2 separate regions of the Homo sapiens genome follow, and region 1 is linked to region 2. Evidence: fine-mapped expression QTL. Tissue or cell type: whole blood. Region 2 holds a variant in brackets; the other region holds the start of a gene. All regions are shown on one strand. Distances are from middle to middle.

Region 1 (8,000 bases), 61 kb after region 2:
GGCCCTGCGTATGAAAGGTGGCTGTTTCTCAAAATACCTGCTTGGAACAAGGTAGTTAATCAGCTGAGCTCCCCACCCTGATGCTATGGCCTTTTAATGTGATGTCTGCAGGTCTGGCTTCTGGAATTTCTCAGTTGCATAGTATCATTTGTTCCCCATGATGGCGGTGGGGTGTGGTCACGCCTACATACACCTGCTGCTGTTGCCAGGGAGGTATTGCAGCACAGGTGCACAGGAAGCTGCAGCGGGTTCCATGGTGGTGGCTTCCAATTCTCTCTTTTTCTCCATTCCTCCCTTTTATGTTCCACCCACTCTTCTATTTCTCTTTTCTCGCTTTTTCTCTCCCCATAACATTTCTCCAGCTGCTGCTAGAGTCCAGATACTGTGTAAGATTCTAGAAATACAAAGATGCGTGAGAGTTCTTGATTTCTATGAATGTTCCCTCCATTTCTCTGGAATGATTCCACATGCTAAGTTTATTAAACCTCTCTACTTTGATTTTGATATAACTGCTTTGGAAAAGGAGGTCGTCTAGTAGCTATAGAAAATATATTGACCAACTATAATTGCATGATCATATGAAAATTAAACAATCAGAAAGTGCTCTAGCTTACTGATTGGGGTAGGAGAGAAAATATTACATCTCCTCCTTGCCGATGTCAAAGTTTAAGAATTTGTATTAACTATTTGGGATACAAAATAACACAAATGACAAACCGTACCGCTGGTAGTAGATTTATTTGTTGCTGAGATAACTAAAAAAGTTAGGAGATCCTGAGTAGACATTAATACTTAATCTCAAAATATTTTCCTTTTTTTTTGCTGGGTATACTGATTCCAGGTGCTTATATCATCCAAATGAGTGCCTAGAGTCTTTTTAATACAAAAGTACAGCTTTAAGTGAGAGTTCTACCCTACCTGAATATAACCCAGAGAAAGATTTGAAAATGAAGATATAAATAGAGTTAATTCCAGAGAGTGGTGAGGGAACAGTAGTTTAGCCAGTCATTACAGTTAACATAAGTCATTGGGTGTGTGGAGTTGGAAGAGGCTGTGCAATGTTTTATTTCATGCTAATCATTTTTTTTACTTACTCAGAATAATTCCAAATCTAATGTTGATATTTGATTTTAATTGCTTGGAACACTTTTCAACAGAAAAGCCAAAATCTTGTAATGGATCTACGAAGAAGAAAACAATAGATTAGTTGCGAGTACATCGTATATTTTGCAAACATATTCAAAATTTGCAACAATATTGTTTTCACATGAATTGCTACATTTATTCAAAAGCATATTGCCCAACACTTTTTAAAATAAGCCCATGATATTTTCATCAGCTCCCCCCCGTGTCTTCAAAGCCAACATCATGTTCACTCTGACAACAGGGGGCCTCCATCCATGGAATAAACAGGGTCTTGCTAGTTGGGTTATATCTTTACTTGTTAATGTTTTTATCATAGAAAATGTTTATCATTGCCTGAATTTTTTTAGTTCCTGAACGTTTGGCCTTAAAATTGCTCATGGATTGCATAGCGGATTTAATAAAGTATCTATTATTATTATCAAAACAGAGGGAGATACAAAAGTTAGGAGAGCTTGAGTAGACATTAATACTTAGGCTCAAAATATTTTCTAAAAAGATTTTCAAAGTTAAGACCTGCCTTTCTAATTCCATTTTATCCCATCCCATCCCAACCCATCCCATCCCATCCCATCCCATCCCATCCCATTTAATGTAATGCTTCCTCCTCCAAATATTCCACTATGTACAAGGTATTGTGTTAGATATGATAGGGGCTATAAAGATAATATTTTCTGCATACAACTTCTGCTCATTCACAAAGCTCCAATGGCTTATCTATGCCTCAGAATACAGTCCAGAAATGAGCGACTGGCTCCAACTTCCATCCTCCACATCACAAATCCATCCTTCATTCCTTGAGGCCAGAGTGGCAACATACACACCAGCACATTCCCACCATGTTTGATTTGCTTGTGTGCTTTCTCCCATTTGCAATGGTCTTAGTCTTTTTGGCCATTATCTAAATCCTCAGGTCTTGCTCATTCCCATCTTCTTTGTGAAGGCTTCCCTGCCCCCATATATTCTCTTGCTTCCTTGAACTCTTAAAACAGCGATGTCTGGCATTCTTGGTAAAGTGTACAAACATGTATCACTCTGCACTTTGCTACGTGGCTTATCCTGCAACACTGAATCTAAACATGAGATTTCTTAAAGGCCAGAGCTGGTTTCTTGTTTTGTTTTGTTTGTTTTGCTTTCCATTTCCTTTTCCTTTATGTTTCCCACTGGACTGGAGATAGGAGAGCTATTTTTAACAGAGGGTTTACCTTGTACTAATAGCTGAGCCTTGTACTTTAGGAGTGTTTTCCATTTAATTCTCTAGGTTCCCCAACACCTAGCAGAGAGCCTCACAGCCTCACAGTCTGATCCACAGTAAGCACTCCATAAATGTACATGTTGAGTGAATGGATGGGCCATATATTGGGGCTGTTTCTCAGCTCCAAATCCAGCCCTCTTTCCTCTGCTTTTTCACTGGGCTCTCGGTAATCATGTTTCTCCTTCACTGTCTGCCAGTCAAGGTAGCAGAGAGATGGAGGCTGGAGTCGAAGAAGGGACTTGCTCCTTCGTGAGTACTTGCTGGGAGTGTCACTGGTGATGGCCCATCATGTTGGCAGTGGCAGTTGGTTCCAGTTTCCAGCTCTCTTGCACCTTCCCAGCTTCAGCTGAGACTCAGCTCTGCGGGGCCCTAAGCTACTGCAGTAACAGCACATCAGAAGCTGTCACCCTTTCCTTAGCAGCCTGTGTCTCAGCTCCACAGGGTCCTTCTGTCAAGCATCCAGTTTCTAATCCCCACAACCTCTGCCTTTTGCTCTCCCAGCCTTCAGGGGTCCTTTCTTTGCTCTTTTGGTTCTCCAGCAACTGGTTCTCTAACCAACTTCCTATATCAAATTCTCTCTGTTAAAATAACTGATATGGTCTTCGTTTTCCTGACAGCACCCAGACCTGCAGAATAAACAATAATCTGAAGAGATAGGTATGATTTACCTCATTTTACTGTTACGAAAATATAGACTCGGAGATGTTGTATTAACTTATCTAGATCCCCACACTAGAAAGTGTCAGAGTCAAGATTCAAAGCCAGAGTTAAAACCAAACAAACAAACAAATTGCTCCCGGGTATTGTGCAGTGAAACTCACAAAGTAGAACCTCAACTACATATGTTACTTATTTGATTTGTAAGATTGCCCAGAATATTTTGTGTGCAGGCATATGGCATCTGGTAGTTCTGTTTCATAACTGATTTCCATTTCAGCTTAGCTATGAGCTCACATTTGCCAATGTAGTGTTCCAGACAGTTTTATCATCCACATTGCTGACCTGGAAGATGCATCATTGTCTATGATATCTGCAATGGAAATGATCACTAGGCAATTTCAGCCTTGCAAATCTAACGTAAGTACACTTTTGTTTGATCAAAACCCCTTTGGTCCAGTCACTAATTTTCCTAAGGGTGGGAAAGAGCCCTTTTGTCTTATGCTCATTGGACTCCTTCCTAAGTATCTCTGTGCTGTCCCAGGGTTTCTTTCAGCCTGGAAAATAGGAGCAGGGGGTTGGAGACGATAGTTCCTGCTACATCCTTGGCACTCAGTATTGAAAAAGACAGAAGCCAATGAACAGATGCTTAGGAAGGTGAATCCTCAAAATTGTGGATAAATTTAAGTTGCTATCCAGGCAAAATAAAAGAGGCTAAGTACGTATTGTGTTGTTGATTAGCAGCTATAGAATTACACTGTATGTTTATCAATATTTTAAAGGTATAGATAGAAAGAATCAACTAAGGGCGGGAGAAGGAAATAAAGCATTTTCTTGGTACTAGAAACACATTGTTGTTAGGAAAATAATCTCAATAAAGAACAAAGTCACAAAGAAAGCTGTAGGCTGCATCTCTCTGAGGATATGTATATAAAAGCAGAAAGACAGATTGCTTAAAAAGCGCTTAAGGGTTTGGTGAGCTTTCCTAGCAGTTATTTCAAATTTATATGCAAGAGTGATATCTTTGAGTGTAAACATGCAGTTTGTGGTCCTCTTGGGGAAAGTGACATTGGTTCTTCCTCCTCCCCCAACCCCACCCTCTCAAACTCATATCCTTCTCTGTATTTATTTGCATTTCCACTCAGGCACTTTGCATGTTTTATATTACATTATATTTGTTTGTATACCTCTGTCATTCCTCCACTAGATACTGCAAAGCTAACTCCCCAGTGCCAGGGCTATACATAATGTCTTAATATCATACTAAATCTCCAGTGATTGTTTGCTGGATGAATAGTAGTGGTTATTTGTAGTAAATTTGCCGAGAACCTTAAAGCAGGATTCCTCAATGTCATCACTATTGACATTTTGTTTTGGATATCCTTTGTGGTGGGTGCTGTTCTGCACATCATAGGATGTCTAGAAGCATCCCTGGTCTCTACCCACCAGATGCCAGTAGCATCCCCATACCCTCTAGTTGTGAAACCAAAAATATCTCTAGACCTTACCAAAGTATCCATGAGGGATAAACTCACCCCTGGTGGCGATCACTGCTTTAAATAATCACTGTATCAATTTCCAGGCTTTACCTATCCTGCAAATGCCTCAGAATCACCTACCAATATAAAAGATGGTAGGTTGCATTTTAAAGTAGTTCTCCTTCTACAGTATGAACAGTGACGGACAGGCTGAGAGCGGAGAGACTTTCCCTTGGACCCTTGCCTCAGTAACTTTTAATACATGTAAGACGGATCATCTGACTTTGGACTTTCTGAAGCAATAACATCGGAAAGTTAATCAGAGTTGGCGTTCTGGGAATTCAAGGGCAGAGATAAGTGTTTCCTCCAGATACTTCACTGTATTTCAGCAAATGACCTGAGGAAAGAAGTCAAAACTTCATCACGAAATAGAAGACTGTTCATTTTCAATATTTCTTCCTTGGCCTCTATGTGGCACTCCCTTGCTGTCTGTCCTGTTGACTTCTATGGCTTCCACCCAAGGGAGGACAGCATTATAGTGGGTGAATCCAGCACACCCCAAACTGCCCCTGCTCCCCTCTCCCCCGGGCATGTGGGCCCTCGAAGGCAGGCTTCTCCAAACCAGCAGCATGTGAACCCTGCCAGAAGTGAGGAAGAGCTCTAGGAGAGCAGCCAGCAGCATCTGTTTTGCATACAAAGGGCAGCAACAATCAAATCTCTTCTAGAAAAGTTTTCTTGGACATTCATGGAGTAAAATAGAGTTGGATAAACAAGCCAGGTTTAGAGTGAGCAGCGTTTGAACAAATATCAGCTCCAAAGGTATTGTTGTGCCTTCCACCCTCCATTAGTGGCCTAGGCTGGGCTAGACCTGGGCAGCTGTCGAGGGGAGGACAACCTTGTCAGAATGGCTTCTATTAACAGCTAGCAGTGGGCTTTCAACTGGAATCAGTAGGAAGAAGACAAAATCCAATGACACAGACTCTGGAAGTGAAATTCCTCAGCAGAGGATGGTGGGGGCCCGGGTACACTCCACTGGACCAATCCTTGATTTGACTTCAGGCAGCCGGAAAGCTTGGATGTATGTCCCTAAGTCCTGGAGGCCATGGATGTAGCTCCGCCCCCTGTGGCCTCTGCGTTGCTGGCTGGTTAGTTTGAGGCATAGAGGAGGGCCCAACTCTTACACAGCTAGTCCCATTTTCCATATTCTAGCTCTACTTGAGGTTTTTCTTTAGCTTTATATTTTGAAATAATTATATTTTCACAGGAAGTTGCAAAAAGATACAGAGAGGTCTCATATGTCTTTCCCCATCATCCCCCATGGTAAGATCTTACATGGAGGACAATACCAAAACTGGGACATTGACACTGATACAATCCACAAAGTTTATTCAGATGTCACCAGTTTAACAATCATTCGTGTGTGTGTGTGTACAAGCGCATGTATGTGCCTGTTTTTTACATTTCTATTGCTTGGGTTTAAAATGGTTAGAAATTGGTCTTCCTCCTCTCAGGGGAAGGTAGAATTCTTACAGCAGAGTCGCTGTGAAAAGGAGCTGACCCCCCTCCAATCTCACTTCCACCAGCCTTCCACATACTCATGGCCAAGTGCAACCCCAAGATTGCAATGTCCTTCCTGCTTTGTAAAGGTAGTCTTTCTCCCCCTCCCTTTCTCCTAGCTCTCCTCTTCTCTCTTCCTGTCTCTCATTCTTTCCCTCTCTCCCTGTCTCCCTCCCTTTCTCTCTCTCTGTTTCTCTTTTTCTTCTCATACCAGTACTTAGATCTGGCTACCATCCTGAGATTAAGAACACTGACTTTTCTTCAAACACATCTTAACATTCATGGCTCATTCCCTGTGGCCCACATTACTCTAAGAGCTGGTATTGCTTCCTGCATGTGCTTTTGGCAGAACACAGGCTGGCCCCAGGAGGATGTTAGGTATTACAAGCATGCTTCCAATAGAGGCACGACCTGCGGAGGAGAAAGGGCGTAGAGGGCCCAGGAGACCTTACCAGCCACAGGCAGCTTAGCTGCACTGGCAAGACTGCCTCTAGCAAACAGTTTATGGAGGGAAGGAAAAATTGGGTTAACAGAATGTGAATAAAGCTGGTCTGCTTCTGACTGCTCAATAAAACAGTACTGGATGGTTGTTTAATAATGGGGGGGTGTGTTAGGGTTCTCTAGAGAAACAGAACCACTTGGCACTGGAGACAGAGTGTCTGAGTGTGGTTGAACTGCTAGTCCCGGGCCAAATAGTAGCAGATATTCCTCTGCATCTTTCAGAATTCTTTCCCAAATGTAACAAAATAACAAACAGACCTTGCTTTTGATTTCTTCTTTTAGGTTGGCTGATGGCCAATTCTGCCAGCTTGTGTTCTATTTATCAAACAGATCTAGTTGGGCATGGATCTAGAAGTCTGTCTTCTTTCATGGCTGTACTTTTACTGGAGTGTCTTAATTTTCTTGGCGAATTCATAGGATGACGTTCAAGGGTCACCGTAGACCTTTACAGGAGGATGATGCATAAGGCTTCAGTAAAATCGCATTGCTGGAAATCCATTACCAGCACAATGCAAAATTAACTTTCTTCTTTTCTGTCCTTAATGCCACTGTGTTCCCTCCTCCTCCTCCCCTCATACTCCCTCCCCACCTTTGTGGAAAAAGAAATAATTTACAATGTGGTAAATGTATTCTAGCTGTGGTTTTCTATTATGTCCTGATCTCTTCTTTTTTCTACCTGTCAAATCTTATTACTGTAGCACAGCAAGGCTCCCCAATGGGTCATTATTTCAAATAATAGTAGTTCCACTCCCATTTGACTCTCTTATGCCAGCATTTCCTCGGGAATTGACTCACACATTCAAGTCATACGTATGAACTGGCTTCCGGTTTCATCTCAGATATGTAAACGGTGTGTTCAAAATACTTAAACATGTTTCTTGCTATCAAATGCAACAAAAATAAAATGAACACCATCATAATGGAATATCGACTATTTGTGATATGAGATGGTAAAATCTGCAACATCCTGCTGGCTGCCTGGCAACCTTGGTGAATATGTTTTTGAGTGAGAAGGTATGTTTGGGCTGCTAAACTCAAAATTCTGGATCCCTAGCTTGTCTGCTTTTAATTGCAAAAAAAAAAAAATTGAATTCATAATAAGCCTTTTTATTGACAGAAAAGGAGTAGGAATCTTGCATGGCCCCTCTGGCCTCTAAGTTCCACTTTCTCAGAATAACCTAAGTTTGGCTTCTATCAGCATAGGAGGAGATGGCTTTTCTATCATGATATAAACATGAGAGACCATAACAGATGAGTGGCAATGAAGACACTCTTCTGCCCAAAATATCTTGCCAAATGTCTTGAGGAAAATAATGACCTAATTGAGGCAGTTTTGTCTGATCTTTGCATCTTAGGAGTAGATCAACAATGCGCTAGCCAGGCGCGGTGGCTCAGGCCTGTAATCCCAG
Region 2 (11,227 bases):
CCCTTTGCTCCTTGCATGACATCTTCACGTCCTTGATATTTATTGATTATTTCAGATAAGAGCCCTTCTGTACATGTTGTGTGTGTGTGTGTGTGTGTATTGAGAAAGGGAAAGGAAGGAAAAAGGGAGAGGAAGGCAAATACAGGGGAACAAAGACAGAGTTTGCACAACCCCTGCTGGGCCAGCAACCTCTGCCAGTGAATGAAAAACAAACCTGAAAAGGACTTTCACTTTCTAAAGCAGTGGTTTCAATAAAGTACTATTTCACACCAGTCAGAATGGCTATTATGAAAAAGTCAAAAAATAACAGATGCTGGAGAGGTTGAGGAGAAAGGGAATACTTACACACTTTGGTGAGAATGCAAATTAATGCAGCCCCTGTGGAAAGCAGTTTGCAGATTTCTTAAAGATCTAAAATAGAATGAATATTAGACCAAGCAATCCCATTACTAGGTATATACCCAAAGGAATATAAATAGTCCTACCAAAAAGACACCTGCACACGTATGTTCATTGCAGCACTGTTCACAATAGTGAAGACATGTGATCAACCCAGGTGCCCATCGACTGTGGACTGGATTAAAAAAATGTGGTACATATTTTTATACCACATTTTTTTGGCCATGGAATACTGTGCAGTCATAAAAAACAAGGAAATCATGTCCTTTGCAGCAACATGGATGCAGCTGGCAGTCGTTATTCTAAGCAAACTAATGCAGAAACAGAAAACCAAATGCCACATGCTCTCACTTATAAGTGGGATCTAAACACTGGGTACATAAGGACATAAACATGGGAATAACAGACACCAGGGACCCCAAAAGGAAGGAGGGAGAGGGGGGCAATGGAAGAAAACCTAACTATCCGGTACTATGTTGGGCGACTGGATCATCATCAGAAGCACAAACCTTATCATAACGCAATATACTTATGTAACAAACCTGCATACAAATACCCCTGAATCTAAAATAAATAAAACAATGGTTCGGGGGAATAGGCTGGTGAGGCTCTTGGCCAGATTGTAGTGCTCTGGGGAGGGTAGAGCTGTCAGGATAAGAGGACCAAATACAGAGAACTTGGAACCCCACGATGAGAAATTTGCATTTAATTGGCAGTGAAGAGCAATGGAAAATATGTGTGCCAGGGAGCGCCAGGTGCAGGCTCACTGGAGTGGAGGGAGCCTGGGGCTGGGGAGGCGCACTGGGCTGCTGTTGGAACCCTCCGGAGGGCGGAACTGCGGCGGGAGCTGTAGGAATGCTGTGGAGCTAACAGTCAGGAAGGACATTTCAGAGGTCTGTGACTGGCCACTGACCTGATCAGGAGTGCAGGAAGCGGCAGGAGGCAGAGATGGCTCCCAGCCAGGATCCGGAGGCCCGGGAGGGGCGGGTCTTCCAGCCTGGAGGGTGAGGCCTGGAGTGGGCGGGGCTCCCAGCCAGGAGGGTGAGGACTGGAGTGGGCGGGGCTTCCAGCCAGGAGATGAGGCCTGGAATGGGCGGGGCTCTCAGCCTGGAGGGTGAGGACTGGAGTGGGCGGGGCTTCCAGCCAGGAGATGAGGCCTGGAATGGGCGGGGCTCTCAGCCTGGAAAGGCGGACTGGAGGGGGCGGGGCTCCCAGCCAGGAGCTGAAAGCCCCGGAGGAGGAGGCCCAGGAAGGGGCGGGGCTCCCAGCCGGTAATGGGAGGCCTGGAGGGGGATGGACTTTAAAAAGGAAGCAGAAAGGCCAGGAGGACGAGCTTCACTGGAGGTGGGTAAGTTTTGTTTCAGACCTGTAGGGCTGAAAGTGTTGACGAACACCTGGGAGAAAATGTCCAGTCACCGTCACTGCAAATGCGGGTCCGACCTTCAGGAGAGGGATTTGGACTGAAGATGTGGGTAGGAGCACCCTCTCTTAGACAAGAAAAATTGAGACTAAGAGGAGATGAGATCGCTGGGGGATCATAATTAAGTAAAAACTTGTATCTCTAAAATCCGTCCTGACATTTTCATTTATAGGATATACATATGTATGTATCTGTTATAATCTGAAATGTGTCCCTCAAAATTCATATTTGAAGCCCTAACCTCCTCATACCTCAGACTGGGACTGTATTTGGAGATGAGGCCTTTAAAAAGATAATTAAGGTAAAACGAAGGCATTAGAATGGGCTCTAATCCAATATGTCAGGAGTCCTTATAGGAAGAGGAGATGAGGACACAGACACCCACAGAGGGAAGACGGTGTGAGGACACAGGGAGAGGACACCATCTGCAAGCCCAGGAGGGAGGCCTCAGGAGAAACCAATCCCGCCCACACCTGGATGTGGGGCTTCCAGCCCCCAGCACTGCGAGGGAATAAAGCTCCGTTGTGTAAGCTGCCGCATCTGTGGTATTTTATTATGGCAGCCCCAGCTACTAATACAGTACCCCTACCGATACATACATATTTACCCACATGTAGCCACACACATGTGCACATATGTAATCTTTTTGCCTATAAAAAAGTAAGCAATGCCTAAAAGTACAGGTGGAGAGAAGGCTAAAAAGCACAGGCTCGAAGAGACTGCCAAGATACAACGATCCAACAAAGACACATCGTATCAACAGTAATGATTTCCTAAATGTGAAGGTAATTTGGATGGCTGGTTTATAGTTTTCATGCCCGGGAGTTTTCCAAGGCACAATGTATACCCTTTGCGGCAGCTTACTCTCCTGAAATGTGCCTTCATGAAATTAGATAAACAGGGAGAAGATATGAAGTACATCTGCCTAACACCACGTTAGAAGAATCCCCGGGCATTTGCATCTTATGCGATGATATGCTGGCAAACCTTGGCCAACTTCCAGTCTTGTCCTTATGACAGGGGACTGCTGTGTTGAGTTCCCGTCTCAGGCCTCACATCCACCTTGGCCCTGCCTTGGGAGCCTGTAGGTGTGGGCAGAAAAGAGGGACGCTGCCTTCCTGGCTGGGCCTTTCTTCACACACAGGCACGAGGACCCAAGCTCTAAAGGATGAAGTCCCCATGGTCTCCGAAGTTTTCATTATCATCCCCCTCCTAAAGCTCCACCTTGGAGGCAATGCACTGTAACAAAAGGACCAGCACAGTGCCCAGCACACAGAAAGCTATCAATCAATGTCAGCCTTAACCATTATGTTGGTTGACTTGCCATCCCTCTTCCTCAACTGCAAACTATGTGAGAGAAAGATTCATGTAACCTTGGTATTACACAACTCCATCGTGGTGGGTTCAGTTGCATTTGTCAAATGATTCAGAGTAGGACAACGGGAATTTTCTTTACAACATCACAGCATTGTAAAGTCTTTGCTTTGCACGAAAGTGTGGGACTGAAGAAATGATTGTGCAGGTTGAAACTGTGAAGCAATTTTAAGAAGCAACAAGGAAAATTATGATTGTTTCATAATCTTCAAAAAATTTTTAAAGTGTTAAGAACTGTTTTACTACTGGTCGTAAATGTATAAGAACATTTAAAGATAGCAAATTGAATACTTATTTAGCCTGTCATAATTTAAAAAATGAGAAACATTGAGAAATAGTGTTTTATTTCTTTGTAAAAGACTTATGGAGAGTAAATTGAAAAGGGCTTTGCCACCTTCTCATTGTGAAACTTACAGTATGGACCAGGCATCTTTTCTATGCCTTGGCAAATTGTCACATTCCTTTCTATATTTGGATAGGCTTCCTACATTTTGTCCTGCACACTTTCAGTGCTGTGAAATATCTCCAAGAGTTTCTTTAATATGAAGTTTTTGCCAGCATCTTTATCCTGAGTCCCTCAAAAGACACATCCAGAATCTCTCAAAAGACAACAGCATCAACTTTCCCACCATCAGCTCTTTCTTCTCTAAACTCGTTTACGTCTGAGTCAACTTTCACCTCCTGCATTCTCACTTTTTGTTTCTTTGCTATACTTTCCTCTTCATTGGCTACCTACCTCTCTTGAGTATTCATTTCTGTGAAATGTCACGTGGGTTTGTCACTGGGAGCCAAGAGAGCAGCACGACCACACGCTTTGCTGTCTGTGTGGGAACTGATAACACGGAAGGACTGAAGGACGTGATGCGGTTAATCACTGATCATGATGCACATCTGTTATTACGTGGTGGTCTGTGGACTGCAGAGCAAGCAGCAGAGGTTGTCCCCCATGCAATCACTCACAGTTAATGGTGACTGAAATTGGAACCATGTTGTTAGGGGGCTGGTGTTATTTAACCTCAGTTGCCACAGGGCAATGAAAATTCGTGCGTTTGGGAACTATGCAAGGTGAGGACTGCCTGAATGTTCCATAATGTGATGAGTGCCTCACAAACAGGGTGTATATTATCACTGAGTTTTTTCATTATTCTTGACCTTCAATATATAGACATTCTTGTTGATGGTATCAGGTTGTTTCTGCGTGAATGAGCTTTACTCCTCTGAGAAATGGCATTCCTGACCCTCCTCTTTGAATCAATTGCACAAAAGTATCTGAAGGAAATTTGCTTACCTGCTGCTTTCTATGGAAGCTTTCCTGCAGCATGACCTAGTGTCTGTTTCTGGTTGATGATTAACCATGGGGAACAAGCGTTTGAGATAAAGAAGTTGCAGAACTTTTTAGAGAATGTAATATGTTAATGTGCACTGGGACTCTCCCTGAGCTATATCAAGTTTCCTGGATTCTGAAATGCTATAATTTTAAAAGTGTCATAAGGTTAAAACAGCTTTCTAAGAAGTGCCTTTGTTGGAAGAATACCCAGGAATGGTGCGCTGGACAGCTTTTGTACAAGTCTTGCATTTTCTCAGAACTATCTCTCATCTTGGCCATGGCATCAGTCACATCCTGAGTGGCTCACCTTGACTTGGGTTGCCTCCTACTGCAGTTCTCCTAAACTCTGGTGGGGGACACGGGCACAACCCACCCAATACTCGTATGTGCTTTACCTGGAAATAAGGAGCAGAGGAGCTAGGGGAAGGAGCCGATGGCTAAATGTTCCTGCCTTTTTTCCCTCAGGCAGACAGTTCTAAGGTGCACGCTGTAGGTTGCTGGGACAACCCTGGCAAGATCTTCCCCCAGACATCCACCTTGGCGGCCGACTTATTAACTCATTGGTCTATTGACTTTTGCTCCTTGCCTCGCCCCTGATCCCTGTGCCCTCTTTCTAATAAGCTACCTGCTGGTGAGGCTCTGCCTTGGGGGAAACCCAGGCTGAGGCAGGTGGGATGTTATAACCAGGGAGGCCTGAGTCCTGGGTCTTTGCCTGGGGTCCCCAAATAGGAGAGGGATTGGAGGAGGTATTGTGGGGGAGAGTGTTGCAAAAGCCCAGAGGAAAGGAGTGCTGTTACCACAACAGAGGAGACATGAACCTGCACAGACCAAAAACAGGAGAGAGAGAGGGAAAGAGAAAGAGAAGGGGGAGAAAGAAAGGGAGAGACAGAGGAAGGGAGAGATGGGGAAAGAGGAGAGGAGAAAGGGAGGGAGAGAAAGAAAGGAGATGGAGAGAGAAAAGGGTGGGGAGAGAGATAAAGAGAGAGGTAAAGAGAGAGAGAGAATCATCTACTACATGATTTCTTTTTTTTTTTTTTCTGAGATGGAGTTTCGCTCTTGTTGCCCAGGCTGGAGTGCAGTGGCGTGATCTCGGCTCACTGCAACCTCCATCTCCCGGGTTCAAGCGATTCTCCTACCTCAGCTTCCTGAGTAGCTGGGATTACAGGTGCCTGCCACCACGCCCAGCTAATTTTTGTATTTTTGGTAGAGACGGGGTTTCACCGTGTTGACCAGGCTGGTCTCGAACTCCTGACCTCAGGTGATCCGCCCGCCTCGGCCTCCCAAAGTGCTGGGATTACAGGTGTGAGCCACCGCGCCTGGCCATGATTTTTTTTTTAACCTATAAAAGCCTTGAGTAGTGATGGACGCGATTCCTAGTAATGTGGTTTACTAAAGGGTCAGGCTGTCAGTTCACCACAAATACGCCACAGTAGTGTTTGGTATTCTCTCAATGTTCCACCCACCAGAGCATACAAAACAGCCACATTCCCCAAACACTTAATTCTCAAAACATACTTGTAGAGGAGGGAAGCCTATTACTCCCATTAGAAAGATGGAAAACCAAGGTGAAATGATTAACTGAGCTACCAGGGCCTCAGAAGAAAGTCGCTGCTGAGTTTGGGATTGTGTTTTCAACTTCCTGCCCACTGTGGGTGAGCTCCACCTTTTACTGGAACCAACTCCAAGGAGGAAG[T/G]TTTGCTGGGTTTCCTGGAAGGCAGAGGTTTGCATCTGCATGCCCTGCGTGGAGGCATTGTATTTGGGGGCAGGCAGGAGAATACTGTAGCTGGTGTGCCCACAGAAAGGGAGGGAGAGAAGCCACTGGGAGTGAGCTGGGCTTGGGATCGGGCTGTGTCCTCACCAACTGTCTGCCCAGGCATGAACTTGCCACTGCTGTGGAAGAGTCTGACTGCATCCAAGAATGCCAAAGGTTGTGGCTGAACTCACTTCTCAACAGACTTGGATCATGTTCATATACTATTCTTTAAAAGATCACCATTTGTAGTAGAATGTCAAAAACCCAAAGATGTTGCTCCCGATGTTGAGCTGTAACTATTTTCTGTGTTGGTGGAAAAATATGAGAGAATTAGTTGCCATTCATGAATCTCAGTGATACACAGACAAAAGCATGCTTCAATTTTGTTTCTTTGTTTTTGAGTGGTTCTGATTTATTTTCAGCTTTTGGGTGATGTCTGGGGCTGTTTATTGAGGACGGGATAAATGGGGGGGGGACCAAAATATATTTGGCATTTATTGGTGGTGTTTTATATTTGTGACTTGATTTACTTCTTATCACAACCCAGTGAGACACGTACTATTATCATCCTTTTAATAGATGAGCAGCCTGGAGCTTAGAGAGGTTAGGTAGCATGGACATCATCAGGCAAGTTAAATGAGAAAGCCGCCACCCATTCCCAGCTGGGGCTGACCCCAGCGCCTGTGTTATTTCTGTTGCCCTGAGCCTCCCCAGGCTTCTTAACCCACATGTACTCCTAGCTTCCAGCAGTGCTAATTTACACCGTGTACCAGCTGGAGACATTCTGGAGTGTAGACTGACGCAATAATCCCCAATGATAGGTTTGCCATGTTTTTTTTAAATGTGTTTTTTCCTACTTTTTATTATAGATGTCAGAATTTTCTCCTTCCCTGAGTTATCTTTGGACTTAGATGTATATAAATGTATCTGGTTGGAGGTGGGGGGAAAAGTGGAAGTGGAAGACCACAAAAGTAAAAATTACATTTGAGTGTATTTCACCGATTCTAAGAGGAATGCTTTCTTCTGCTCCAACCACTCTGAAATCTCCGGGTCCCATACTCCCATCGCAGCTGTGTGACATGGTTGCCGTGGCCTTTGTGTGAACATCAAAGCTCAGAGGATGGGTGTCAGAGGCTTAGATGAAAATCCTGAAGACAATTGTCTGGCACTTTTCAAAGCTATACGGCCTCACCAAAACCCTCCTGGAAGCTCTTGATGGCTCGAGGTTCAACAGTGTCTGGGAAGACATGGATATAAAAGATCCAGAATCAAAGAGTGATTCCAAAGAGTTAGAGGCTGACTGTGAAGTCTTAGGCATACTGTAACCCAGTGATTTACCTATCTTTGCTTTTCTGCTCATGCAGAAGAGTGATATATGATGAATAAATTCTAAGTTCAATTAGGCCTAAAAGAGCTCTTGTAATATGCTTTAAAAAGTCTAAGTGATAAAACATTGTGACAGATAGAGTTCTGTCAGTGTTTATATTTTCTTAGTCCTTCATTAAATAACAGTGTGTCTTACACCAAGGCAGTTTTGGATTCCATAAAATATGGTAGTAGTTATGTTTCATGTTTCAATAGTCATCAATCTGTTTTTAATGTATTCATGGAAAAATATGTGGGCCATCTTGCTATTTAACTATTTTTGAAATCTCATGGAAGCCTGCCAATGTTTTTGCAATTTAGCTAAGAAGCTGTCTTGCTTTTTGAGAGGGGAAGTTCCAATATTGTAAGCCTAGGTTTCTGAATATATTTTTGTTTTTTAATAAATGTAGAAAGAATGTTTTTTGTTAATCCTGGCATTTGTCTAGAGCAAAAGCAAAATAAATGAAAAGTGAGGAAAATTAAAAGGCTCACGTTATAACATGTGCTGTCTAGAGAATAAAAACTCATTTGTGCAAAGTTGGTATGGCTTTTATGAAAATATTTCAGTCCGAGCACCTTGCCTGTTTGCTGCAGTGCTGACTGACTCATGATTAGGGATCTGTGTTGCCTTTATTGCTCTCGGTTTGCCCTATGGCTTGATTTATTAATATATTTAAATATACAATTTTAACCTTATCATTGGTGTGCAGGTGTATTTATTTATACTATCTTTGCTTTTAGAAAAACACTATTATATCATAAAAATATTTTAACCTTAAATTACTTCCCACAGGCTTCAAGTTTTATGCAGTTCATATCTGGGCATAAAGAGAAATCAATATACTGTGGCCTGCAGGGCACCAGCCTTTGGTGTTTGTCAAACGTTTACAGATAACTAATGTCCCACATAAAATAGATCCATTCTTTCCATCTTGCACATCTTGCACCTTTCTTTTTTTTTTTTTTGTATGACCACTGCCGTGTAGCCATCATGTCTGGACTGATAGTAGTTTCTAGGCTTGGAGGAAACTGCATTTTCAAGAAAGCAGGATGCAGACATCCCCTGAGGAACACCTGCATTAAACATAGCCTCCCACCTAAAAAGAGCTCCCTGAGTTGGGAAGTGTCTTATTGGCCTCTCCTTCCGGCCTCTCCCACTCCCTATGCTGAAACCAAGAGCTTCGGGGCTCCCCTCCCTGCCCACCCTGGCAGGGAGCCCAGGGCCCTCGTTGCTCTCCCTGTCTCCTATGCTGTCCGAGAACCCCTGCAGCTCCAGGCCCTGGACCAGCCACAGAGTTTACTTCTACTGTTGCAATACTTTGAAGGGAGAAGAGTTTCAGCCTTTTTGATCAGTGGGGCTTCTACTTAAAATCCTTCCATGGCACCCCATTATCTCAGGGTAACGTCCAGACTCCTAAAGTGGCTTCCAAAGTCCTTCATTATCTGATGGGCCTCTGTGTACTTTCTCTCTCTTCTCTCTCCATTCCTGGCCCTCCTCATCAATTCTCTGGCCATTTTGAACTTGACTCAGTCTCCCCAATGTGCCAGGCTTTCCCTGGCTTCCCGGCTCTGCGGGAGGATGAGAGTGGGCTCAACTGTCTTTTGAGGGAATCCTGGAAACACACCCACCCTGAGAGTCATTGTTTTGATGGAAGTGACATTCCAAACCAACATTTGGAACCAAGTCCTGTAAGCCAGAACCTGCACAGGTTTTGTTAAAGGAATCAATTTAGGCCTGGCACTGAACTCCTTTCTGCTGTAAGACTCTTTTAGAACTTTGGAAGTTTCTATGCAGGGGACTGAGCCATCCTGTCCCTGCCTGGTTGGGCATGAGAAGTCACTTGGAATAGGTCTGAGTGAATGCTGATGAACTCCGACTTAGCTCTGGTAAACAGTGCAAGTTCCCATGAGACTGCAGGGCAAGAACAGGGCAGGCTGCACACCGCGGGGAGAGGCACACCTCGTTCCGTCAAGAGACACCTGGGCCTGGTGCAGGCGCATTCTCCGTGGTTAACGGGTGTGAAATCGGCATTTATCATCAGTGACTTTTCATTGTGTGGCTTCTGTGAGTCCCCACCTTCCTTCTAAACCTCAGCAGGACACTTTCCCTTCCCTGTAGTTCAAATATGCGCCGCAACCTCAGCTTGATCTCAAGCTTTCTATTGCCATGTAAACAATCAGGGAGCCCTGGAATGGTGGGCTCCAGGGGTGGGTGGGTCAGGGCCACCCCCAGGGGTGCAGAGTCTGAAGGGGCTAAACTCCGGGCGGAGGCTGGGGGGCCTCAAAAGCATTTTCATGCAGGTGAGAAAAGGAAAATTTCCAGGGCATCTTGGCTGAAGCACAGAAGTGACTCCCGGAAGACCTGGCATGTGTGAGATGTAGGAGGGATGCTCTGTGCCTGCTTGTGTGTGTGCATGAGTGCGTGTGTGTGTATGTGTGTATGCGTGTACATGTGGTGGGTATGATGAGCCTCGGGGCTCCCTTTAGCATCTGCTGGTGAGTTTACTGTGCCTGCCGACCGTTTCCCAGGTCAGGCCTCCGCCCATGATAACTACTGTTTACCAAACACTTACTGTAGGTCAGTGACTCACATATGTGATCTCATTTCACTCTCCCAACAACCCTGACGTAAGGACTATTATCCCTATTTAACACATGAGGAAAGGGAGGTTTGAGAGCTCTGGTTACTTTTTCACATTCTGAAGCTAGGTGCCTCCACAGCACATGAAATGTTCTGCCGTCGTTCGTCTCCCTGGGACCATATGGAAACGGGGGCTGCTTCCCCTGGAGATCACAAAGGGCTTCTGCAGTAGAGAAAGGAGACTAAGAGCACCTTTCTAGACTTTTCCTTAGCATTCTTCAAGATGTACTATCAGAAGTTCAATAAAAACAACCTAATGCTGAGATTCATGGATAGAAAATTGACTCAACTTCCTGCCTTCCGACGAGCTTATTTTCTTCTTAGCCATTGTAAATTGGTGGAGCCGTGTTCCTCCTTGTCTTAGAAACTTTTAATGGTGCTGTTGCCCTCAGGTTAAGGTCTGGACTCCTTGTGGCTCTCCAAATCCCTCAGAGTCCTTCATTGTCTGAGCAGGCACACTCATCTTCTGTAGTTTAAAAGGTGGCAGTGGCTGGGCGCAGTGGCTCACGCCTGTAATCCCAGCACTTTGGGAGGCCGAGGCAGGCAGATCACCTGAAGTTGGGAGTTTGAGACCAGCCTGACCAACATGGAGAAACCCCGTCTCTACTAAAAATACAAAATTAGCCAGGCGTGGTGGCACATGCCTGTAACCCCAGCTACCCGGGAGGCTGAGGCAGGAGAATCGCTTGAACCTGGGAGGCAGAAGTTGGGGTGAGCTGATATCGCTCCATTGCACTCCAGTCTGGGCAACAAGAGCAAAACTCACTCTCAAAAAAAAAAAAAAGAGTGACAGTAATGACATGATCATTAAACATCTTTCAGGGAAGACTCTATGAGACCGATGTTTGCATGCTAAAGACAGGTGTTGCTGCCGGAAAGTGATTCGGTTTGAGGACTCAGGACTTGGGAACATCAGTCTCATCTCAACAGAACCCTTTTTTCAGTTCC

What was found. PIP is the estimated chance that this variant, and not a neighbour inherited with it, causes the effect.
Region 1: LY86-AS1 starts here. The variant in region 2 is fine-mapped to the expression of LY86-AS1 in whole blood (TOPMed, PIP above 0.99).

Annotation. Positions count from the first base shown.
Region 1 is chr6:6,618,107-6,626,106 of GRCh38, reverse strand. LY86-AS1 (LY86 antisense RNA 1) reads left to right here and starts at 3,281. Exons shown (of 8, transcript NR_026970.1): 1 at 3,281-3,475. LY86 (lymphocyte antigen 86) reads right to left here. Exons shown (of 5, transcript NM_004271.4): 2 at 1,095-1,181.
Region 2 is chr6:6,677,416-6,688,642 of GRCh38, reverse strand. No RefSeq gene overlaps it. Among named protein-coding and RNA genes, the nearest start is that of LY86-AS1, 60 kb to the right of the region's middle. The variant T/G (reference allele first, on the strand shown) is at 6,214.